3 separate regions of the Homo sapiens genome follow, and regions 1 and 2 are each linked to region 3. Evidence: fine-mapped expression QTL. A gene starts in region 3. Each other region holds a variant in brackets. All regions are shown on one strand. Distances are from middle to middle.

Region 1 (8,532 bases), 51 kb before region 3:
ATAGCACAGATTGGTTTGGCAGTCATTACCAGGGGGACTGTCATTTTGACACCACTAATCCTACTTCTTAAGTGACTGTCATTATGCCGCAGCCACGTGCTCTGCCACTCCTACTGTTTCCACCCTGATGTGATGAAACTCTCATGTTCAGACACAAAGATCAACAGTGCACTACGATTAAGTGCAATCATCTCTACTGCCGGAGTGGACTCCATCTTTATCTTGCTCTCCTATCTGCTGATCATTCGCTCAGGTCTCAGCATTGCATCCCCAGAGGAGAGGAAGAAGGCCTTCAGCACCTGCATTTCTCATATCACTGCTGTTGGCATATTCTACATCCCTTTGATCAGCCTGTCCTTTGTTCACAGATTTGGAAAACATGCCCCACCCTATGTGCCCACCCCCATTGCTAACGTATACTTGCTCATCCCCTCTGTGATGAATCCCCCATCATCTACAGTGTGAAAACAAAGCAGATTCAGAAAGCTGTGCTCAAATTTGTATGTTCCAAGGGAATTCATATTTAACATGTACTACTCCTATAAAGGCTTATTTCAAAGTCTAGAAAATTTACCACAAATTGGAATTATAAACCCATGCATGCAATTTTAGAGTTGAGTGAAACTAAATGCCATCCAATTCAAATGTCTCCACAATGTAATTATCATTGCTAAGCAATCTCTTTTCTACCATCAAAATACTAATTCAGATTCTCACTATCTTAGTTACCTTGTTCCAACAGATGACTAACTGAATTAATGCTTCTATGCTGTTTCTGCTCAACAATCACATGATTCACTTTGAATTAAGATTCCAAATATCCAGCCCTAAGAACATTTTAAAAAGAAACAAATAAATATATATTTTATTTTTATTTCATATGCACCAACTAAATGAAGCAGCAAATCCTGTCTATGGTAATTTCCTCAACAATTTAGGCTTAAACTTTCTTTAAAGTTTCATTCACTTTTTTCTCTTTTCCCATACTCTACAGTCTAAAAATGCCAGTCTGCTTACGACTTCTTCAAATGCATGCAGTTTTTTCATGGTGGACTTTACTGTTGACTCCACTTCAACTTTAACATCCACTTCACTGTGAAGTTCTACTTAGGTTTCAAGGCTCATCTTTAAATATCTTCCTCATTAAATATTTTATGATTGCTCCAGTGATATTTGTTCTCTCCTCATAATTTTCATATTGCTTTGTTCATATCAGTTTTGCCTTTATATGTGTGCACACCTGTGTGTACATTATTATAGCTTTCACAAGACTGTACATTTCCTAAATAAAAAGTCTTGATTTTATTTGAAGGCTCTGTAATACTCAGCAGAACACCTTTCACATAGTAGATACTTATTGATAGTTGTTGAATTGAACTATACAGAAAAACCTATCGAATAATCTATCTAAACAATTCCAGTGATAACTCCCTTGATTCAATACTTGACATGTGTAACACAAGAAATTTCTCTTTCAACTGAGTAAAATTTTTCTGCCTATATTATCTGGTAATTGATCATAGTTCTAACTTTCCAAACTGCATAGTTGAATGGCTATTATGGAACTTTAGGTCTCAGAAAGTTGTCCCCGTTTGGTCCCACATCCAATAAATCTGTATTTCTTGTCTATTCTTTAAAAAAAAATAGATTTAGGGGGCAAAGTTTTGTTACATGGATATATTGCATAGTGCTGAAGTCTGGGCTTTTAGTATAGGCGTCATACAAATAGAGTACCTTACACCCATTAAATCATTTCTCCTCCCCTATCCCACTTCCACCCTCCTACCCTTCCCAGTTACCAATGTCTATTATTTCACTCTAAACGGCCATATGTGCACATTATTTATCCCCTACTTATAAGTGAGAACATGCAGTATTTTACTTTCTGTTTCTGAGTTATTTCATTTAAGATAATGTCCTCTAGTCCCATCAATGTTACTGCAAAAAACATCACTTCATTCTTTTTTATGACTGAGTATGATTCCATGGTATACACTCACCACGTTTTCTTTATCCAGTCATCCACTGTTGGACACTTACAGTTATTCCATATTTTACTATTGTGAAGAGTACTGTGATAAACACATGAATACAGGTTTTAAAAATATATAATAATTTATGTTCCCTTGGGAAACTACTCAGTAGTGGAATTGCCAGCTCAAATAGTAGTTCAATTTTTAGTTCCTTGAGAAATAGCCAAGTAGTTTTCCATAGAGGTACTGGTAATTTACATTCCCACCAACAGTGTGTAAATGTTCTCTTTTCTCCACATCCTCACAAACATCTGTTATTTTTTGACATTTTAATAATAGCCCTTCTGATAGGTATCCATTGTGGTTTTAATCTGCACTTCTCTGATGATTAGTGGTGTTGAGCAATTTTCATAAGCTTGTTGGCCATTTGTATGTCTTCTTTAGAAAACTGTCTGTTAATGTCCTTTGCCCACGTTTTAATAGTTATTTGTTATTGGTTGTTGTTGAGATGTTTGAATTCCTCGTAGATTCTGAATATTAGTCATTTGTTAGATGCACAATTGGTAAATATTTTCTCCCCTTCTGCAAGTTATCTGTTCACTCTGTTGATTAATTTCTTTTGCTGGGCAGAAGCTTCATAGTTTAATTAAGTCCCCTTTATCTATTTTTGTTTCTGTTGCATTTGCTTTTGAGGTCTTAGTCATGAACTCCTTGCCAAGGCAAATGTCCATAAAAGTTTTTCCTAGCTTTTCTTCTAGTGTTTTTATAAATTCAGGTCTTACATTTGAGTCTTTATTCCATCTTGAGTTAAATTTTGTATATGGTGAGAGATAGGTGTCCAGATTCATTCTGCATATTGGCAATCCAATTTTCCCAGCACCATTTATTTAATAGGGTTTCTGTCCTTTCCCCAGTGTATGTTTTTGTCAACACTGTCACAGATCAGCCGGCTGTAGATATGTGGCTTTATTTCTGGGTTCTCTAATCTGTTTAATTGGTCAATGTGTCTATTTTTATACCAGTACTATGCTCTTTTGCTTACTATAGCCTTGTAGTACAATTTGAAGTCAAGTAATGTGATGCCTACAACTTTGTTCTTTTTGCTTAGGATTCTTTTGGCTATTCAGGCTCCTTTTTTATAAGAATTTTAGATTTTTTTTTAATTCTGTGAAAAAAATGATTTTTGTAATTTGTTAGGTATTACATTGAATCTGCAGATTGCTTTGGCAGTATGGTCATTTTAACAATCCTGATTTTTTGATCCATGATTATGGGATATTTTTCCATTTGTTTGTATCATCTACATTTTTTTCCTCAGCATTTTGTAGTTTTCCTTGAAGAGATCTTTCACCTCCTCGATTAAATGAATTCCTACATATTCTTTGTAGCTATTATAAATGAGGTTGAGTTCTTAATTTGGTTCTCAGCTAGATAGCTATTGTTATTTAGAAATGCTACTGATTTTTGTATGTTGATTTTGTATCCTGAAACTTTACTGAATGTATTTATCAAATCTAGGAGTCTTTTGGTGGAGTCTTTAGAATTTTCTAGGTATATGATCATATCATCATCAAATAGAGATAATTTGATTTCCTCTTTTCCAATTTTGATGCATTTCATTTTTTCTCTTGCCTGATTGCTCTGACTAGGACTTCCAGTACTATTTTGAATAAAAGTGGTGAAAGTAGGCATCCTTGCCTTGTTTCAGTTCTTAGAGAAAATGTTTTCAACTTTTCCCCATTCAATATGATGTTGGCTGCAGGTTTGTCATACGTGGCTTTTATCATTTTCAGGTATGTTCCTTCTATGCCTAGTTTCTTGAGGGTTTTTTTCACGAACTCATGCTGAATTTTATCAATTGCTTATTCTGCAACTATTGCCGTGATCATATTTTTTTTAAAAAAAGTCTGCTTATGTGGTGAATCATACTTACTGATTTGCCTACGTTGCGACATCCTTGAATCTGTGGAATAAAACCC[G/T]CTTCATTGTTGTGTTTTTTTTTTTTTTTGATGTGCTGTTTGATTCAGTTTGCTAGTATTTTGTTAAGAATTTTTGCATCTATATTCATCAGGGATATTTATCTGTAGTTTTATTTTCATGTGTGTACATGCCTGGCTTTGGTATTGGTGATACAGTCTGCATAAAATGAGTTAGGGGTAATTCCCCCCTCCTTGATTTTTTGGAACAGTTTTAGTTGGATTGGTACCAACTCTTCTTTCTGTGTCTGGTAGAATTTGGCTGTTAATCCATCTGGTTCTGGATTTTTCTTATTTGTAAGATTTTTTATTACTGATTCAATCTTACTAATCGATATTAGTCTGTTCGGTTTTCTATTTCTTTCTGGTTCAGTCTTTGGAGGTTATATTTCCAGGAATGTATTCATTTCCTTGAGGATTTCTAGTTTGTGAGTGTAGAGTTGCTCATAGTAGTTTGTGATGATCTTTTGTATTTCTATGATATCAATTGTAATGTCTCCTTTTTCATTTCTGAGTGTACTTATTTGAATTTCCTCTCTTCTTTTGTTGGTTAGTCTAGCTAGTTGTCTATCAGTTTTTTTATTTTTTCAAAGAACCACCTTTTAATTTTGTTGATTGTTTGTATTGTTCTTTTGGTATTAATTCCATTTAGTTCTGCTCAGATCTTTGTAATTTATTTTCTCCTGCTAGCTTTGGTTCCATTTGTTCTTGTTTTTCTAGTTTCTTGATGTATGATGTTAGGTTAACTTGTGATCTTTCTATTCTTTTGATGCAGGCATTTAATGCTATAAAACTCTCTCTCAGTACTGTTTTTGCTGTATGCCAGAGGTTTTCTTATGTTGCCTATTTTAACACCAAAATATCTTATCTTCACTTTTGGTCTCAGTTTAGGCATCAAAATCCTTTGCCTAAATCAGTTTCCTTAGAGTTCTCTAGGTCTCCAATCTTACCTTTTTCCTCCTTCTGTTTTCCATAAAACATAAAGACCTCTTTAAAAGGTTTTTAATGAAATATTAATATACAAAAAAAAGTTCTCATTAATGAAATATATTTTAGAAAAGGCCAACATCTACCTTGCTATATTCCCCCAAACCCACTCTCTTTCTGACTTCTCTATAGAGGTAACCATTGCACAGTTTTGATTTTTATCCTTTCTTTTTATATTTATATGCATAGATATGGAAAAATAAAATTTAAAACAAATTTTATCCTTTGTATTTCAGATAGTAACAGAGTTTCTTAAGGACACTTTTCCTGTTATTTAAATACTGCATAAAACCAACTAAAGAAACTTGCTCATTACCCAGAATTCCTATGGATCTCACTGTCCCTTCATATTTTCTGTTCAACACTTTCCCAGCTATTAGCCCTCTGTGGTTTCAAACCCTACTGGCTAATTCTCTATACCTCTGTCATATCTATTTGGTAAGCTCATTCTGACTGCTACTTCGTTTAGACATAGAAATGCTGTAGAATGCTATATCTAAGGATTACTTCCTCAGGGTCCACTTGCATCAACCAGTTACTAAGAACCCTACCGCAATTACTCTAGCTTATTGCCAGGATCAATGACCTGGGATTTGGCAGTCTGGTTCACCCTACCCTACTTCAAACATTCATTTTTTACAAATAAGGATAAAATGTGTCACATTTTACAACACTAAACATCCAGCTCAAAGTTTTGTGGCCTTAAGAACTGAGACCAAGAACATTATTCCAATGTATAGCCTTTGTGTGTGTGTGTGTGTGTGTGTGTGTGTGTGTGTGTGTGTGTGTGACAGAGACTTACTCTTGTTGCCCAGGCTGGAGTGCAATGGCACAATCTCAGCTCACTGCAACCTCCACCTCTCTGGTTCAAGTGATTCTCCTGCCTCTGCCTCCCGAGTAACTGGGATTACAGGTGCCCACCACCAAACCCGGCTAATTTTTGTATTTTTAGCAGAGACGGGGTTTCACCTTGTTGGCCCGGCTGGTCTCAAACTCCTGACCTCGTGATCCACCCACCAGCCTCCCAAAGTACTGGGATTACAGGCGTGAGCCACCATGCCCGGCCCCAATTTATATTCTTATTCATCTTTAACAACAGCATGTATTTAGCGCCTACTGTAAATCAAGTAGTGAGATGGATATTGAGAATACAAACATGAACAAGACTAGCTTCTTGCCTTAAGAATACTTAATGCCTAGTGAGGAATATAATTTGCAAAGATATAATTTAAAAAATATTTACTATATAGATTTACCTTCTTTCAAGAAATCTCAATAAAGAACACAACTATTGGATAATTCCTATTACAAGAACTTTAACCAGTAATTCTACTTTACTGCAACCATGGTATAAAATCAAAAACTACTTGACATAGAAATAGGAAGAAAGAACACTAAAATGATAGAAATCACTAAAAGTGAGAATTAATAATGTGAGAAAATACTCGAAATGATAATGCAAGTCAATGGGAACATAAGATTGACTATGAAAATTTTAATTGGCATTCAAATTTTGATAATGGCATCACTTGTCTATGAAGTGTTTTCCAAAGGTTAATCCATAGTCTGAATACATAACAACTATAGTACAAGGCCAAACACATAATTATTGCTTGAGGATCTTGTTAAAAATTTGGATTCCTGATACATCTCTACCAGGGAATATTATTCGGCATTAAAATTAGCTATCAAGCCATGAAAAGACATTAAAGAAACTTAAATACTTACTACTAGGTGGAAAAACATTTTGAAAGGACTGTATACTGTATAACTCCAACTATATGACATCCTGGAAAAGGCAAAACTTTGGAGATATTATAAAAATCAATGGTTTCCAGGAGTGGGGAGGGAGATATAGGAGAATAGACAGAGCACAGAGGACTTTTTAGGGCAATGGAACTATTCTGCATGACACTACAATGGAAGGTATGTATCATTACACATGCATCAAATCCATAGAACATACAACACCAACAGTAAACCATAATTTAAACTGGATTAGTGGTGATAATTTCTTGTCAATGTTGCCTCATAGATAGTGACGAACGTACAAATGTACCACTCCACTGGGAGATATTATGGAGGGGTAGGATGTGCATGTGGCGCTGGGAGGCATATATGGGAATTCTGTACTTTCTGCTAAATTTTGCTGTGAACCTAAAACTTATCTAACAAAGTCTATTAAAATGCAGGATTCTGGGCCCTAGCATCTGAATATTTTGTTTTACTAGTTCTGGGATGAGGCCTGAGAATTTGTATTTATAGTAAGATTTCCAAAGTATACCTGATACTCAGCCAGTCTGGGAAGCCACTGAGCTACAAATGCAACCGTATATTTCTTTGTTGTTTATTATTCCAAATCTAAAACATATTCGTTTTGATCTTTGTCTGTGGGGAAGAAAAATATTTATTTTGGTGGAACAACCGGGTGTGAAACCAAGAATATCAAGTGGCTTCAGTGGTTTCCTTCCCAAAGGAGGTAAGAAAACTATATGTGTACACTTTTTATATTAGTCAAAATTTATAATTTTCATAACATCGAATTTTAATAAGTCATAGCAAGTCAAAAAAGAAACATCTCAGTAATTGCAATACATGAAACTATGTATAATAAATTCTGGAGATCTGATGTATAGCATGGAGACTATATTAATTATATTGTATTGCATACTGTCTTTGATAAGAGACTGCATATTAAATCTTCTTATCACAAAATATAAAGAAGAAGAGGTGATTATGGAAGGTCATAGATAGGTTAATAACCTTCATTGTGATAATCATTTCACAATGTATATGTATATCAAAACATCACACTCTACACTGCACATATATATAATTTTTAGCAATTGTCCCTTAATAAATCTAATAAAATTTTTTTAAAGAAGAAAAGAAACCACACGGGAGAATAAGTAGATTTGGGCATGCAGAATGACTCCAAAGCACAAAGGCAAAACAAGCAAATACAATTTATCAGAAAGATCCCTTAAGAATAAGTTTTTTTGTGGGGCGAGGTAAATGATCCTCATAGGGCTGAGTTCCTCATAAATATCCTCTATTCTGGGAGCTGAATTGGACCTCAGAGCCCTGCCTCTTCCTCATCCTCTTCACTGAATGTAAGTACAGGGGCATCCAAGAGACAATGGTCATGCATTAACGTTAGACGATTTATGTTGACTCATTTTGCAGGAAGAGAATTGTCTTTAAAAGAGAATATATTTCTAAAAGAAAATTGTAGCAGACATAAAAACACAAAATGCTGTTGAATTGCCTTTGAATTAAGAATTTACAATAGGAAATGTCCTAGTATTTTATTATTTAAGGCAGCTTAAATTTTTTAAAAAACTAGAGATTCTTTCTAATGTGCTGAACCTTCATTCTGAAAATGTCCATAAACAATAAAATTCTGGAAAAAAATCAAGGAAATACGGTCAGTGTGAAACCTAGTTGAGATTTCTAAGATAAAATATTTAAATTATAGTATCCCTGAAGAGTAGAAATAGACATGGGGAGTAAGAATAGTCCTGCTAGGCACGGTGGCTCACACTTTTAATCCCAGCATTTTGGAGGCCAAGGCAGGAGGATCACTTGAGTCCAGG
Region 2 (8,532 bases), 48 kb after region 3:
GATAAGGAGTGGATGGCAAACATCTGTAGCAGACAAGCATCAAACTGGATGGTAGTGGAATTGAACCAGAAGATGGCCAGCATTTTGGGCATGGATGAGGTGGAGATGAGGATGTCAATGCCTGAAAGCATGCAAAGAAATATATACATGGGCTCATGCAGGCTGTGCTCAGTCCGCACAATGTAGATGATTGTCAAGTTACCTAGCACAGCAATAAGGTAGAGGGAGCACAATGGGAAGGCCAACCAGAACTGAGCCTCTTCTAAACCAGGGAGGCCTATTAGGATGAAGTATGTAGCACTGGATTCATTGCCATTGGGATCCACCATCATGAAGAAGCTGAACTGTGACCAGCACCAGGCAGGTAGAGGCTGGAATGCAAAGATAAGCCACTGTCAGATCCATAAGCATCCCAATACCTAACACCTGACTCTATCCTGATGTACTGTTCTCTAACTCAAACTCTAAATCCATTCCTTATGCAAATTCTAATCATATTCTAAATGCAATCTCACATAATCTAACATAATTCAAGAACCAGACACAAATTCATCCAGTCCTACTTACTAACCCCATCTGTATTGTTAATCCTGACAGCAAGTGAAAGACTAAGACAAAAATTTTAAGCATATGCCAAACCATTTAGTTCTCCAAAGAAAGGCTACTGGCTGAATATAAAAGAATCTTAGGTGATAAAAATATCTCACCATTTCCTCTATCCTAGCTTACCTTTATGCTTCCCTATGCTTAATACTAACTGCAATTCTAAGCATATCATTAGACTATCTTTAAGAAAAAATTCCAGTCCAAGTGTAACAACACTAGTAGTAACAGATTAATACTGAAACCTAACCCCAGCATTAATCTAATGATCTCCCCAATTCTAGACTTAACCCTAACTTTAACATAACTTAATATTTGACCTTTTAATAACCATTTCAATCTTAAAGATCGAATTGATGATATTCAAGTCACAATTCATATTCTATTTTATTATGATAAACCGTAATCCAATAAAAAACTGACACTAAATTAATCCTGAACTCTAACTCTACATTACCTTCTTGTCCAAATGACCACCCAAAGCTTTACACTTGTCCAGACTACTCAGTTTATTTCAAATAAAGAATGATGGCTCTAGTGGATACCGTTCGTATCCCAGCCAGACCCCATTCACAAAGCCAATGTAACCATCTCCCATCTGCACTGAGCATTGAGTGCTAAGGGCTCACAGCTCCCCTTCTTTCCAGAGGATTGTCCTTGGTCAAATGGGAGGCACCTCACCCAGGAAGGTTACACTGTGCCCCCATGATGCACATCTAGAGGCCAGTGGCTGCCTGACATAAGGGGTACCAAAGGTGAGCCCCATTGCCTCTGGGTGCAACAAACACTTTGATGCAATTTGTACTTCAGAGCTTCCCAAGGAACCAGCCTGAGGCTTGTCTCCAGCTGAGACCACAGCCCTGCTTAGCTTTCTTCCCCTGCCCTACCAGGATTCCCTCCTTCTTCTTCTCATGGCCATGTACTCCCTCAATATGTCATTTGGACAAGAACCCCCACCTCAGGTTCTGCTTCTAGGAGACCCACCCAATCTAAGAAAGTGAGATTGATACAACTAGAATACTAACCCTGAGGGGTGATGGCATTAGAAGCACTGGAGGCATAATCAATCCTATAGCAGAATTCAGTCTGCAAACAAACTGAATCTGACTATAAAAATGATTTGATATTACTGAGGTGGAAAATGTCAGACTTGGGTCATCTCAGATTGTATGTGTCTGTTAAGAGTGAACTGATTCCCTCCCTCCCTCCCTTTCTTTCCTCCATCGACAAATATTCATGTGCTCCTACTATAGGGTAGCCCTTATCTTCAATGCTTGAAACCAGAAGTGTTTCCGATTTGGGATTTTTTTTTTTGAATATTTGCATTATACATACCCAGATCAGCATCCCTAATGCAAAAATCTGAAATTTGAAATGCTGCAGTGAGCATTCTCTTTGAGCATCATGTTGGTGCTCCAAAAGTTTCAGATTTTGGAGCATTTCAGATTTTGGATGTTTGGATTAGGGGTACTCAACCTGTATTTATTAGATCATGTGTATTGTAGTTTTTACATAGATTTGGCCCTTGAATGTTTGAGAGCTGGGATAGGGGTTTCTGCACTGGTTACCAGAAAGCAGCTGAGCATAAGTCAGAATTCATGGCCAGCATCAGAAGAGGTCCCATGGGCTCAGGGTGTGTCACAAATCTTTGTACCAGCATCAAGCGGTCACCCAGAGGTTTCCTCAGACCAGATAGAAATTAGTGGGAAAACAATGGGAGCATGAATAGTAGAACAGAGGGTGAGAGAGTTTAATTCAATCTGCTGGGAAGGGAAGTTTTAAGGCAGAGAAACCATATTTAAGCTAGAACTTCAGGCAAAGGGCCGAAGTCATCAATGTCCCTTCTCGCTGCTGCAGCTTCTCTGCAGCATGTGGCACCAGGAGCACTTTCCTCCTTCTTAGAGCTTCTCCCTCTCCTTTCTGCTGTTCCTCGGCTCTCTCTAATCACTAATTATTGGTTTCGTTTCTGGATCTTCACTCTCCTCTCCAAAATTGCATCTTCAGTGCTCTTCCTGTTCTATATTCTCTTCCTGGGCCATCTCATCCCCTTCAGTAAATCCATTTTTGTTATACAAACAATTGATCCCCAAACCTAGTTAATGAACCCTGAATTCTCTTTTGTAATCCAGGTTCATAATTCGGAAGACTTACTAAAAGGGTTCACCTAATTGTCTTTCAACTACATCAAACTCTCCATGTTCAAAAAACAAACTCTTTCAGAGGCAGTATTATATAGCCATTGAAACTATGATCTTTGAAATCAATCATGCATTCTAAACCCAGTCTAAAACCTCTAGAGCTGTATGATCTGGGGTAAATCATTTAACCTTTCTAAGCCTCAGCATCCTCATCATTAAAATGATTATAAGAGTCCCTGGCTAATAGGGGGTCAGTGTGAAGATTAAATGAGATGATAAATGTAAAGCACTTAACACAATACCTCACACATAGTAAGTATGCCAAAAATAATATCTGTTGCTGTTAACCATTTTCCTCCAGTGTTTCTTTTTTTCTGTTATGGTGGCGTGAACCATCATACAAGCCAGGTTCTCTGATCCTGACTGCCACGTCTCTAGGGTAACCTTCCTCATCCACAAAGTCCCAACAATCTAACCAGATGAAACCAGCTCGCTCCCTATTATTTTAAAAAATACCCTTGAAACTCCAAATTGATTCTAGAATAAAGACTAAACTTCTTATGACATGGCTAAAGATCTGACTTTCATCATCCGGGCCTGGGTTCCTCCCTCACCACTCCTCACCATGATCCCTATGATCTAGCCACATTGAAGTTCATGCTATTTCACAAACATAGCCTTGATTCCCATGACTCTGTGTCTTTCTGTCTTTTTTTACTTCTCATCCCCTTGTCAAGAAAAACTGTTCCTCCCAGATCTTCCTCCTTGACTTCCCACACTCATTGTTCACATCCTGGCTTACTGTCTCTCTCCTATACTATTTTTCCTAAGCCTTTTTTACCTAGGCATAATTAAATGCTTACTGTTCTGTGCTCAAAAAGAACATTATTTAGGTCTTTTTAAAGTATTTACCCTCTTGATAATAGTAACTATAATTATTGCTATATTTTCCCCTGAATTATGAGCTCCTGAACACCAGGAACCTTATTATATTTATTAATTGTTTAGTTAATGTTTTGGAAGATGAAAATGAGTTTTATCAACAGGAGAGTCTCTTAGTATACATCTAGTGAGGGTAACACAGCCAAGGGCATAGTTAAGACTGCCTGTTATCTGTACTAGAGAGACTTTTGAGAAGGATGAGATGATGTTTGGAAGGTCAGTGCAGAGTAATTTTAATTTTGTAAAAATAATCTTTAGGGTCAAACAGAAAAGTCCTTTCTTACCAAAGGAGCTGGAGGGCCAGAGAAATATGTATTAAAAAAAACAGAGCAGCTGCAAGGTCTTGGTCCTAATAAATGCAAAGTGGACATGCAGCACAATTTGTGCCTAAGAGCAGGATAGACCTAAGATCCCTCACCTGGAAACACTGGCAAGAAGGTTCTGGTACTCCAGAGGGTCAGATATCCATGCTATCCATCAGTTTTACATAAACAGATATGGCAGAGCAGGTTGATACTCAGGATTTAAAAAATGTGCTGTCTTAGGAAACACACTGGGAAAGAACTCTGGCTGGGCATATGCAACACTATTGCCTCTGAAGGTAGAGTGATGTGGTGAGCAGAATCCTGGGGCTTAGAACACAAGTCTTGGCGCTAAATAAATGCAGTGAATAATAATAACTGCATAGTGCTGCTGTGAAATTGTATGAGATAAGGCATGTCTAAAGAAATTGTAAAAACCAAATCGGAGTACACATAGTGCATTGTTTTCCACAAAAATGGGCAACAAGGTCTCTGAAAATGTATGAAATTTCATATACTTTTCAATTCCCCAAATTTGTCACCTTAATCACCACTTGGCCTGTATGTACACACTCATACACACACATATTTACTAGCAGTCAATTTCTCACAATAGCAAGACTGGGCACTGATACAAAGATACCAGAAATCAACAAAAGGAAGATTTAGCTGGCCTGGGAAGGAGGTGCCTAGGCAGTATAAAATGGGCAGCTATCGCTGGGGCTAAAATATCAGCCTGGACCCCAGAAGACTACAGCAGGAGAGAAATGAATGGATGGAGAAGGAGCCAGCCAGAGAGCTCAAGTGCCACCGTTCAGACTGGCCAGCCCTGAAGCGTCCCAATGTTCAACAGTCCCTCCACGAGACAGGCAGAGTGACCAGATGACTTCCAGGTGGCCTTCCAGCTTGAGCAGCTGTTAGTAATTAAAACTCAGTGAGATGGTTTTGAGCTCTGGAGGAACTTGGAACTAAATTATTTTGAAAATAAGGCACAATCAAGAAAAAATAAACTAACAAAGCATTTTTTTTTTAGAAAGCTCACACACTGCTCTAATCCCCAAGGAATAGCCCTGTGCTGAGATTTTCTGTGAATAAGTTGAACTATCTTAGCAAGTTCCAGGAATGTTTCTTCAGGAACTATGAAGGACATCTTAACCTTTTCTCAGGAATAGGGGAACAGGAGCTCCCAGCTGTAAAGACTGGAAATCCACGTGGAGGCCTTCAGTCCTCTCCCTTCCTTCCC[C/T]CGGGCTTCAGAACTCTGTCTCCTAATGCCAGCCCAGCCCCCCTCACCAGCCCATCCTCACATTCTTCCCTAGAACTCCTTCTCATAGACCCGTGAAAAAGCAGTCAGAGAGATAAACCAGACAGCAGGAGAGAAATGAAGGGATGGAGAGGAAGCCAGCCAGAGGGCCCAAGTGCCACCCTTCAGACTGGCCAGCCCTGAAGCATCCCAATGTTCCATAGTCCCTCCACAAGACAGGCAGAGGGACAGAAGACTTCCAGATGGCCTTCCAGCTTGAGCAGCTGTTAGTAATTAGAACTTAGTGAGATGGTACTCCAAAGGTGTACCATTAGCCTATTAGCCCTATCTCTTCTGACCCAAGAGAACAATGAGGTCACCTTTAACCCTGATTTTGTTGTTTTTATAATATGAACATAGATTATTGAGCACCTACAAAATGACAGAAACTATACAGTGCCATCTGTATAAATATTATCTCTAATCTGGGAACAGCTCTGCAGAAGGTGAGGGTGTTTAATTCAATCTGCTGGGAGGGAAAGTTTAAGGCAGAGAAACCGATTTAACCTAGAACTTCAGGCAAAGGGGCCAAAGTCATCAACATCCCTTCTTGCTGCACCATGGATCCTCTCTATATTATGGGTGAATACTATGGATCCTTTCTATATTATGGGTGAGAAAACTGAGGCTCCAAGACATTAAATAACATAACCAAAGTTTAACAGGTGACTGGTAATGCAGAAACTTAACCTAGATAGTCTCATACCAAGGCCTATACACTTTCCCTCATTCTAGGCTGCCTTTAATTTTGCTGCACCTTCTGAAAGCTAATAAAATCCACCCAAAAGGCAAGGTATAAGAAGGGCTTGGTAAGTAGCACAGCTGCCCTGGGTATACTCTTAGAAGGGAAACCAAGAGGGCTGCAAAGAAGACTCTTCTGCACTGGAACTTGGGACACTCACCTCCTCTTTCAGCCCTAACTCCAAAGGCTGTGAGGTGGGTAGGCCCCACAATGGAGATTAAAAGGCTTGTCCTCTACCACGTATTTCCTTATTATCTAATTAGAGCCTCTCATCCACCTGTCAAGCAGATATCATTAATCCCATTTGACAGATAAGGATGTTGAGGGTTAGTTAGAGCCCTTAGTGCTAAATCCATTGCTTTACAGTAGGCCAAGCTACTGCCCTACCCCTCCCCATGTCTCCTTAAGAAGGGACTTCGCTTTGTAAGCACTATTTCAATATTAATCTCTCAGGAATCCAACACTGATGACCCATGAGTCCAGGGGCCCCTCTCGGACTCAGGACACATGACCAGCTCTCCCCACTTAGGTTCAGTGTGGAAGGAGAACCAGGAGGAGATTCATTGTCAGTGTCACTATCTGGGCTAAACACACAGAATGTTTCATGCCCAGAGCAATGGAGTGAGGGCCTCTGGCGCTGCTGTCAGCCTCTGGGAATATTTAGAAAAGAATGTCCCTGGAGAGAAGCCCAGACATACCTGGGAGCCTCTGGCTCCTCATCCCAGGCACAGAGAGGGAAGGCAGACCTCAGGGGCAATGCTGTGGCTGGCAAGGACTGGAGGAGCTTGTCACTTGATTCTTAAATAGAGTCCCTTCCCTAACACTTAGTGAGGGTAGTAGCCCCAGCATGACTTCCACTCAAATTATCTGCATCCACTGTGCCCCACACCTTGCTTGTATTTAATAAAGCAGATGAACCCTTGCAAGGTGTTGGTCACTCTTCTTAAAATGGCCAAGATGAAAATGGAAAGATGAGAGAGAGCAACTTCTAACTCCCAAAAAGCCAAGTGAGCCCTCACCCCACCCTGGTCACTCAAGTCAGCCTGACCACCTAAAATCACCCCTAGGCAGAGTTCCTAGGTTTCAGGTCTCTGCTCCTCCACTTCCTGAGTAGGACCAGATAAGTGTTCTAAAGATCTGCAAAGCTGCACCTAGTTACCAGTTCCCTGTAGAGCTATTCTGGCTGCAAGCAAATGTAAGGCAAGGGAAATGCCCAAAGTGGGATTTTGATCAGTGTACTCATTTTTTCAATAATCATTGACGGACTTCTGTGCCAGACTCCACTGAGTACCAGAGATATCGTTCCAGCCTTCCAAGGATGGGGAGAAATTGAGACAAATATGCAGCCATCACAGCACATTATGATAAATTCTGGGACAAGGGGAAGCAAAAGGGCCTCAGAAGCAAAGACAACAATAGCTCAGCAAGCTTTTTAGGTTCCAAGGGCTTCCCTGAGGAGGTGACATTTAAGCCATGGCAGTGGCGGGACCTGCTGCAGGCAGGTAATGGGGCAGTGACACAGGCAGTTAATGGGGTGGGGCACAGCAGCATTCGGTTAGACAACAAAAACATATTGAGTGTCAAAAACTGGAGATGAAACAGTAGATAAATCAGACAAGATGATGGCTTTTATGGAGCTCATATAACACGAGGCCAATAATGAGAAGTAAACAAATAAAATTTCAGTTGAAGATAAGGGCACGAAAGAAAGAGTGATAGGACAGAGGAAGATGGGTGCAGGACACTCATACTGGAGACAGGGGTCAGAAAAAGCCTCTCTTAAGGATGTGACATGTGATGAGAAAACACCAGCCATTCTAAGATCCAGGGAAAGTGCATTCCAACTGTGGGAGACAGCAAGAGAAAAGCGTCCCCCAGCAAGAATGATATTGGGGGATTCATGGAACAAAAGGAAGGTCAAGGTGGCCAGAGCATCAAGAGCACAACAGAGTTTGAGAAGATGAGGCGGGAGGAAGGCAAGGACCTCATCAGGTAACAGGGTCTTGCAGGGTATGGCAAGGAGCTTTGGTTTAATTCTGAGTGACTTGGGGGAATTTCAGCAACAGAACTTATCTAGTTTGTTTTTAAAAATACATCCTGGCTAATACAAAGAGCCAGAGAGAAAGAGAACAGACCTTGTTTGGAAAGCTGAAAGTGACTTAGTGTAGCTAGGGTAAAGAGTACAAGGCAAGGGGTGTTGCCGTGTGGACACTAATCTACTTTTTAAATGGGCTGAAGACTGAATCCTGATCCTAGACACAGACCAAGCTGAGATCGGAGCCCCAGGAAGATTACTAAGTCCCAGTCTCAGCCACAGCCTGACTCCTGATGTACAGCATACAGTGAAACCAACCTCACTCAGAGCCCCACTTCCACCCCAGCTGCAGCCTCATCCCCAGTCATAGACTGAGCTTCAACCACGTTCACCCTGTTCACACACCAAACCCCGACCCAACCCCAATGCAGCCCCAGTCTAACCCCAGCCCAGCCTGTCCTCTGTCCTCT
Region 3 (8,532 bases):
CTTCATATCTAATCAAGATATGACTTTGGGAATTAAATTTCCAACATGGGAGACATATTCAAACAGTAACACACAGCAACCCGTTTTCGTTGCTGTTGTTATTGTTTGTTCTCTTTTAAGTTTATTTCTACAATTTCAATGCATTAACCCTGGATTACCTGTTTTGCCTCTGGCCTCTTGCTCCTGTATCAAACCCTGTTTCTTTTATATCTTAAACTGTTTGCTCCTTGTGCTAGTCTTAGCCCTGAAACTTGTTTTTCTATTTCCTGATCAAGCATGACCATCCACTTGAGCTGGTATATGCACAAATTTTAAAGGTTGCATAACATCCCAGGACTCGATATAAATGCTTTATATATTCTGTATCATTGAGAATTTTTATCTATATTTTTTACCACTGTAAATAATGGGGCAATAAATTTTCCTGTACATAAAATATGGCCTGCATCTCTGATATCTTCCTTTCAATAAATTCTTAGAAATGGAATATTATGGACATTTTAAGACAACAATATACTGGAAAATATGCTTCCAGAAAGTTCATGCAAACATTGTAAAACAATGCTTAGTCCACTGTAACACAGCAACACAACACTATGTATTATGTGTTTTAAAAAACATTTGCTGATTTGATAGCCAAGAATATTTTACTGTTTACCGTAGTAAATGTTGACAGTCAATAAATAAGACTTACTTCAAGTTCCTAGTGCAGAGTTTTCCTATGTCCAATTTGGTACTTCCTGTTTGGATTACCAAGTTTCAGAAACATTAATATGAAGTCAAATGACATCACAGACTATGATATGTTTCCTGGACTCAATGGAGTTAATATTAATGTATTAATAAGATGTGTTGCTGTATGATTTCATGGAGGAACATTGAACTCAAATTTTCAGAAAGTTTAGTTAAATTACCAGCTACTGTTCTGCTAGGCTGGCATGAGAATAGGGCAGTGAGAAGAGCCATATTTTGACGTAGTGTGCCAGTGTGTGTATTGGTGCTTTAACCAGTACACACACTAGTTTCATTTTCATGTACTAAGCTCTGGCACAGAATTTACATGGTACCACTATAGTAACTTTATTTTTCTTATAAGAGTAACATTCTTTCAACCATAAGAATAAAAATATGTGACTATTCCCAAATAGTTTCTGAGACTAATGGGAAAAGAGTCACAGCCCTACAATTTGCCCAACTTGGTAGAGAAAGTGTTTTCAAAGGTCTCAAGAAGTTTCCTGTGCGGAAACACAACAATAAAATACCTTTATGTGCAAGGAATAAGCATGCACAAGTGACAACCTGTTAACATTCAGTTTGGCACATCAGCATGCATGCAGGCTTTTGGGTGTAGATGACTCAAATTGAAAGTAGTGGTGAATGGATAGTCATGTGAAGACTGTTTAGAAAATGAGTTTTGAAAACTGAGAGGGTGTCAGATAGCCGAGGCTTTGAATACTACTTGTGCCATTTATAACTGAGAAACTTAGGTAAGTTACTTACACTCTAATTTTTGGTTTAAACATGGTTTAAGACATAAATCAAACTAATAATGGATTCTTCTACTGAATTTATTATTGTAGAGTTGTGTAAGTCAAAAGTTGACATGGATCTCACTGAGCTAAAATCAAGGAATCACCAGGCTGCATTTCTTTATGGAGGGGCTAGGGAAAAATCAATTATCTTCTTTTCTCCTTCTGGAGGCTTTCCACATTCCTTGGCTTGTAGCCTCCTTCTGCCATCTTCAAAGCCAGCAACAGTGGATCAAATCCTTCTCATGCTGCCATCTCTCTGGTTCTCTACTTTTAAAGACCCGTGTGACTATATTGGATCCACCCAGCTAATCCATCTAATCTTGCCATCTCAAGTTATTTAACTTTAATCACATCTGCAAAGTCCCTTTGCAATGTAAGGTGACATATTCACAGGTTCCAGGCATTAAGACATAGGTATCTTTAGGGGCCATTATCCTGTCTACCACAAACACTTGGCCTAGTATCATGGATGTAGAATGCATAATAAAATATTATTGTTCTTGTTATTTATTGTTTTTATTACATTATGAAGAAGAAAATATCTCAGGCCATGACATTTTCAGTAGTGAAACAGATTTGATAGTGGAGAGGAGATAATATCGGAAGCAGGGAGAATGGTTAGGAAACTACTGAAGTTACCCAAGTGAGAGATAATTGTGACTTAAATAAAGGTGACATTTCTGGAGATGATAAACAGTGATCAATTTCTGATTGTATTTTTCAAAGAGATTGACATAATTTACCAATGGATTAAATGCAGGGTGTAAGAGACAGAAACTGAGAATGAATCAAAGACCCATATGCCCAAGTGTGGTCCAAATTGGTGGGAATATCTAAGGATCTAAAGAGGCCATAAGGAGAAAAGATGGACAACTTATAGCAATCTATGCATTCTATTTATTAAAGACTAATGAGAGTGATAGTAAACTGACAGAAGGTGACATCATTGGCCAAGTCAATCACCCACCTACCTGCAATTTTTCTTGGTATAATACAAGATTTTCAAAATTTGACTATAAGTAGAGAGAACCCCAAATTATTGTGACTAATTCTCTTCAACCTGGTAGGTTGGGACTTCAAAATACGAAATAGGTCAAATTATAAAAAAGTAAATGAAACCGTATTTTATACACAAGTAAGTTGTGAACCAAGATTTTTACCTACTGTATTCACCAAGCATTTGGTTCATGCCTCTAGGATAACCTTATCATTGGTTAACATGTAATTATTGGTTAACCTGTCTATCTTCTACACTAAAATCCTAAACAGTAAGAATTATGGTGTATTCTTAAAAAAAAAAACTCTATCACTGAGTATAATGTTTAGAATATGGGACATTCTTATGAAATATTTACTGGATATATGTATGGATGAGTAAATGAATTATTTTTTATCTGTAAGAGAAAGACTGCTGCTGCAAAGAACCACAGGTGGGCTAATGAAACCATACTGCTGTGAATAATCATAGATACTGAGGAGTTAAGGGGTGGAGTTGGACTCTCACTCATAATGGGAGATGTCATTTAGCAATTTGCTACAATATTTCGTTTTTTAAAATCTCCTTCAGAGTGACTGCTAGTGATTATGAGGTTCCTTTTAAGGGTAATAAAAAATGTTCTAAAATTGAATTGTGATGATGGTTCTTGCACAGTTCTGTGACTTTACTAAAAAAAATTGAATCATACACTATAAATGGGTGAATTTTATAGTATGTGAATGATATAACAATAAAGCTGTTAAATAAAAAAGCTTTTGAGTGAAATGACACATGAAAAAAAGGTTACATCAGCCCATAAAGCACATAGCCACCGTAAGTAATTGCATAATGGAACAGATATAAAAGGACTGTATGAGGCAAAAGAAGTCTTCTGGGAATCTCCACACCCTGAAGACACAGTGAGTTAGCACCACCACCAGGAATTGGCCTTTCAGCTCTGTGCCTGTCTCCAGTCAGGCTGGAATAAGTCTCCTCATATTTGCAAGCTCGGCCCTCCCCTGGAATCTAAAGCCTCCTCAGCCTTCTGAGTCAGCCTGAAAGGAACAGGCCGAACTGCTGTATGGGCTCTGTAAGTAAAACTGTTTTGTTCAATGAAAATGCTTGACTCTAGATGAATTGGACTTTCTCACCCACAGGGAGTAATTTCCTCACAATGTGCAGAATTAGATTAGATGTTGGTATGGTGGGCTGAGGAGGACGGTAGAATTTCAGAATTATTTATTCCCAGGAAATACGTAGAGAATGGGTATTTCGTTCTGCCTGATATAGGTTAGATAACTTGTTTTTAGTCAAATGGTTTAATCAGTGTGCTGATATATTTATCACAGTCAGTGAATCTCATTTCTATGCCCAATAACTATTACTAAAAATGAAAAGTTACCAATTTCGAACGCATTGCCTGCCAGCTACTGGTATTAGACACAGCGCATATCCTGTCTTATAGATGAGGAAACTGGGTCACAGAAAGTTTATATTACTTGTAGATTTCAGTAAAACAATTGTTTTTGAGAGCACGAGCTTTGGAATTAAAAAGACCTGAGTTAAAAATTCAGCTCTGACTTTCACCAGTTGTATGTGATTTCAAATATGTTTCAGACTTCTGATACTCAGTGTCTTTACCAGAAAAATGAATTTAAAGTGAATCTAATAATACTTGTCACATGATGACATAGTAAGAATTAAAATAATGCTTATAAAGCACTGAGGACAATAATGTTCACAGAACACGTGTCCAGTAAATGGTAGCTATTTCTATGAGTAATATTTTTATTAATGGTGTAGATGGTCTCAAAACTAGTTAGTGTTTGAGCAAGAATCTGAACCCAGGTCAGTCACACATGATAGCCATACCATTGACAATAGCATGGAGAATACTGATGACACTATAAGGTCTAGTTCAGCAGATTAAGACAGCCACAAGCTATAGCTTATAATAGTGCAATGAAAGAGGAGCATCATTGTAATCCGAGTGGGCAGAAAAATTAGTTGAGAGAATATAGCTTATTTCACAAGAGAGAAAATGAAAGTATATATGGATTGGAGAGGATGGGTCGGAAAGATTCTAGAGTGAAGGCAGCACAAAAGAGAAGCTTGGGGGAAATTTAGTGCCTCCTTCTAAGGATATTCATTAGTCCCCCTCTTGTCTTGAATATAAACACTTAAGATTTTTTCAATGTAAGAAAAATGCAATGAAATAATAGCTGCAAATACCCACTACTAACAATTGCTTGGCCTTCTTATATAGACCTCCCGAGGTTCTCATCTTTTACATTTCAGGAGTAGAATCAGTTAAAAACTAATCTTTATATGTAAGGGATGAGAGAGAGAAAGAGGAGGGTATGTGTGTGCACACATGTGTGTGTGTGTGGTGGGTAGTAATTTTAATTCAATGATTTACTAGAGTTCGATGTCGTTTGCTGATAAATGAAGCAGGAGGAAGAGCCAGGTTTGGAGGGGACGAGAGAATGAGTTCCATTTGTCTCATATAGAAGTTGAAGTAACTGAGTGATGATGGGTAGAGATGTCCCTCAGGGGTAGCCACAGTATTTTATTTACTTTTTATTCACCACATGCAGCAAGGAGCTTTGTTCTCCAAAATGCTGTCAATTATTTTTCTAAATTACAGGTTTGATTGCTTCACTGTATTTTCATGTCTCATTACTACCTTTACGCTTAAAACCAGAAACTTTGCCACAGCGTTAAAGATTCTGCTAACTTTTAAAATACAGAACTCTGGAGATGCCATAATTAGATTGCAGATTTATGAGTCTTCTGGATATAAGTGCTATTTAAAGCCATGAGAATAACCAAGATATCTCAAGGAGAGCATATGAAAAGCAAGAAAAGAAGAGGTACTTCTTGGGAGAAAAGCAGACTCCTCTAGAATCCCACAATTTATAAGGCAGAGAACAAAACCATTGTTTAACAAACAGGAAAAAAAAAAACCTCACAGAATAACCATCACTGAAGCTAATGAAGGAGAAAGTTTCAAGGAGGAGGAGGTAAACATTGCTGAAAGTTGAGATGAGGGAGAGAAAAACAAATCTGAGATTAAACTTTTGGACTTGGCATGTAGAAAATCACGGGTGACATCATTTGGAGGATTTTCAGAGTCATTAGGGAAAGAATTCAGATTGTTACTGAAGGTGAAGGAATAATAAACAAAAGCAGACTGTTCTCCAAAGGAATTTTTATCCTTATAAAAGATACAGCAGGAAATTGAGAGAGAAACAGGGCTTATGTCTTGTATCCCTCACTATCAAAGCACAAGGCTAATTATGAAAACTATTCAATATATCCTGGTTGAAATGAATTGTTTGGAAATATCTATACAAAACTGTGGGAAGCTTTTATTGTTGAGTTAGAGTAAAACTTGAGTATTGCAGACTTCAAAAAAGCAACCAATGGCACTAAACAAGATACTAAAGAGGGAAAGGAATTTTGTTGGCATTAAATGAGAAGAGATGGAAAATGATTTATTTATTAAAAGCAAAGCTCCTTGCTTCCAGTGGTCAATAAAAGGTGAATAAAATGTTAGAAATGTCTGGCTCTTGATGCTCTGCAAAAATTTAAGTTCATTACACTGTCCATGGAATTCAAGATTTTCATGATTTGACCTCTGGTGCTTTCTCTAGCTTCATTTCCCACAGCACCTAGCCTCACATTTAAGACTTCGATATACCCCTTCTCTTGTAGTTATCCAACAAACTGGCTTATGTTATTCTTTCATTCATGTCTCTCCTCATTTTATCAACGGCACTGCAAAAGCACACTTCCCCTGTTTTTCATCCTTATAAACTCACATTTACCCATCAAAACTTCACACAGTTATAAAGCATACATTCTGTTAACATTCTTGGAACTAGTTCTTCTTGACACACACAGACACATTCATGTATGCACACACTCCAAATCTGCCACTCCACACTATTATCTCTTCTGCCTTATCAATTAGATACATCCTATCCTTATACACTCTACAACTAGTAGCATTTATCTGTTTGTTTCTGTTACTGCTGATAGACGCTGTCTGGCATGTAGTAGATATTTAAAATTAGTCATTTTTTATTTTCAGTAAGAGTCCCTAGACTCTTGACACAGCAAGCTCAGCTCCCTGCATATGTGTGTGTGTGTGTGTGTGTGTGTATATATATATGTATGTGTGTGTGTATATATATATACGTATATATGTGTGTGTGTATATATATATATGTGTGTGTATATATATATATACACGTATATATATGTATAGTTTAGTTCAGTTTGAACTGAACTAAGTGTTTCTGGTTGATAGGAGCTAAAGTGGAGTTATTGGCTAGGAAAAAGAATAAGGTACCCTCTGTCTCTGAGCCCAGCGTGAACGTAGGAAGGATGCAGGAAGATATGCTTGTAAAGTGATGGAAAGGAGAGAAGTCATTTTTTTTTTGCTAGGCCCAACACAGATCAGGTCAAAATATATACACTATGGTTTTCTTTTGTTTTGTTTATGATCTCTTGGCAAGAAGGAGGAAAAAAACTACCAAGAAGAATGAAAATAGGCAATGAATAAATTGTTGAAATGAGGTAATGGGAGATATGAAGAAGTTAGGATGAAAGAGAAATTATTCAAATAGCAATTTAATTTTTTTAAGTGGTTACATAAAATGTCCTACAACACAATGACAAAAATTACAACTCAGATATTGCGTAGGAACTAAAAATCATGAAAGCCAGAATTAATTGACATAAATGGAGCCCCTCTGTACTTTCATAACCATTTTTATTATTCATCGCTGTATATGAGATATTGAAATTATTGAAAAACGGTTCTGCTCTTTCTGCCTCACTGGATTATAAACTCTCTAAGTGGGGTTTTATTTGTGTTGTCCTTTAGCTTCTAAAATAGCACTATGTAAGATCCAGATACTCAGTTAATGTCCCTGAGATAGTAAAGCAAGATCAAGAGAAGTGTTACAAGTGCACTGTTGCTCAACAGTTTTTTGTTTGTTTGTTTGTTTTTTGAAACGGAGTCTCGCTCTGTCGCCCAGGTTGGAGTGCAATGGCGCCATCTCGGTTCACCTGGAAGCTCCGCCTTCCAGGTTCACTCCATTCTCCTGCCTCAGCCTCCCCAGTAGCTGGAACTACAGGCGCCCGCCACCACGCCCGGCTAATTTTTTGTATTTTTAGTAGAGACGAGGTTTCACCATGTTAGCCAGGATGGTCTCGATCTCCTGACCTCGTGATCCGCCCACCTCGGCCTCCCAAAGTGCTGGGACTACAGGCGTGAGCCACCGCGCCCAGCCTGCTCAACACTTTTACACATGCCGTTCTGAAAGCCTGGGAATTCTTCGTCTCAACTTACATAAAACACAGAAATCTTTCAAGCACTGCTTTTTCTAGAAAGCCTTCTCCAAATACTACAAACCTACTGAATGCTCTCTTTCTGGTAATTCCTTTTTAGTGTGTTTTGGTTTTTCAAAATCATTTTATCTTATTTCTAGTTGACAAATAATATGGTATATATTTGTGGGGTAAAATGTGATGTTGTTATACATGTATGCATTGTGGAATGACCAAATCAAGCTAATTATCATATCCATCACCTCAAATATTTATCATTTCTTTGTGCTGTGAACATTTAAAATTCTCTCTTTTAGTTTTTTTGAAATATACTATACATTAACTATAATTCTTATTTCTCTAAGAGGTTTGATCATACATTTTAGATATTTTCATCACTCGCCTGAGGACACTGTCATTACTGTAAATTTCAGAATCTAAAGCTATAGTTTCATTATTTGGCCAAATCGTGTAATCTATAATTTCTTGTTTTTCATCTAGTTTTCTGTTAATTTTAGTTAAATCACACCCCCACCCCCCCTTTTTTTTTCACTAAGACTTCTTCCGGTGATCCTTGAGGTGGCACTTTATCAGGGTGAATGTGTGAGTCTGGATACGTTGAGGTTCCTCTCCATCCTCTCTTTTGTCAACACTTACTGTCAGCCACCCAGCACCCTTTCTTTT

Alleles and levels. Positions count from the first base shown, and alleles are read on the strand shown. Sizes are in standard deviations (SD) of each study's normalised expression.
With allele G in place of T in region 1, the expression in prefrontal cortex of the gene that starts at base 3,398 in region 3 is lower (large effect, 0.92 SD a copy in BrainSeq).
For the expression in fibroblasts of the gene that starts at base 3,398 in region 3, T is the high allele of the variant in region 2 and C is the other (moderate effect, 0.41 SD a copy in GENCORD).

Evidence for each region. PIP is the estimated chance that this variant, and not a neighbour inherited with it, causes the effect.
Region 1: its variant is the best candidate, but not a certain one, in a credible set for the expression of OR51E2 in prefrontal cortex (BrainSeq, PIP 0.51).
Region 2: its variant is the best candidate, but not a certain one, in a credible set for the expression of OR51E2 in fibroblasts (GENCORD, PIP 0.51).

Annotation. Positions count from the first base shown.
Region 1 is chr11:4,744,026-4,752,557 of GRCh38, reverse strand. All of the region lies in intron 1 of MMP26 (matrix metallopeptidase 26), which reads right to left. It also overlaps the pseudogene OR51F4P. Among named protein-coding and RNA genes, the nearest start is that of OR51F1, 22 kb to the left of the region's middle. The variant G/T (reference allele first, on the strand shown) is at 3,953.
Region 2 is chr11:4,644,327-4,652,858 of GRCh38, reverse strand. It overlaps OR51E1 (olfactory receptor family 51 subfamily E member 1), which reads right to left. Exons shown (of 2, transcript NM_152430.4): 2 at 1-371. The coding sequence starts at 332. Among named protein-coding and RNA genes, the nearest start is that of OR51E1, 4.6 kb to the right of the region's middle. The variant C/T (reference allele first, on the strand shown) is at 5,229.
Region 3 is chr11:4,692,719-4,701,250 of GRCh38, reverse strand. It overlaps OR51E2 (olfactory receptor family 51 subfamily E member 2), which reads left to right and starts at 3,398. Exons shown (of 2, transcript NM_030774.4): 1 at 3,398-3,598. OR51C1 (olfactory receptor family 51 subfamily C member 1) reads left to right here and starts at 3,398. Exons shown (of 2, transcript NM_001396051.1): 1 at 3,398-3,598. The coding sequence starts at 3,590.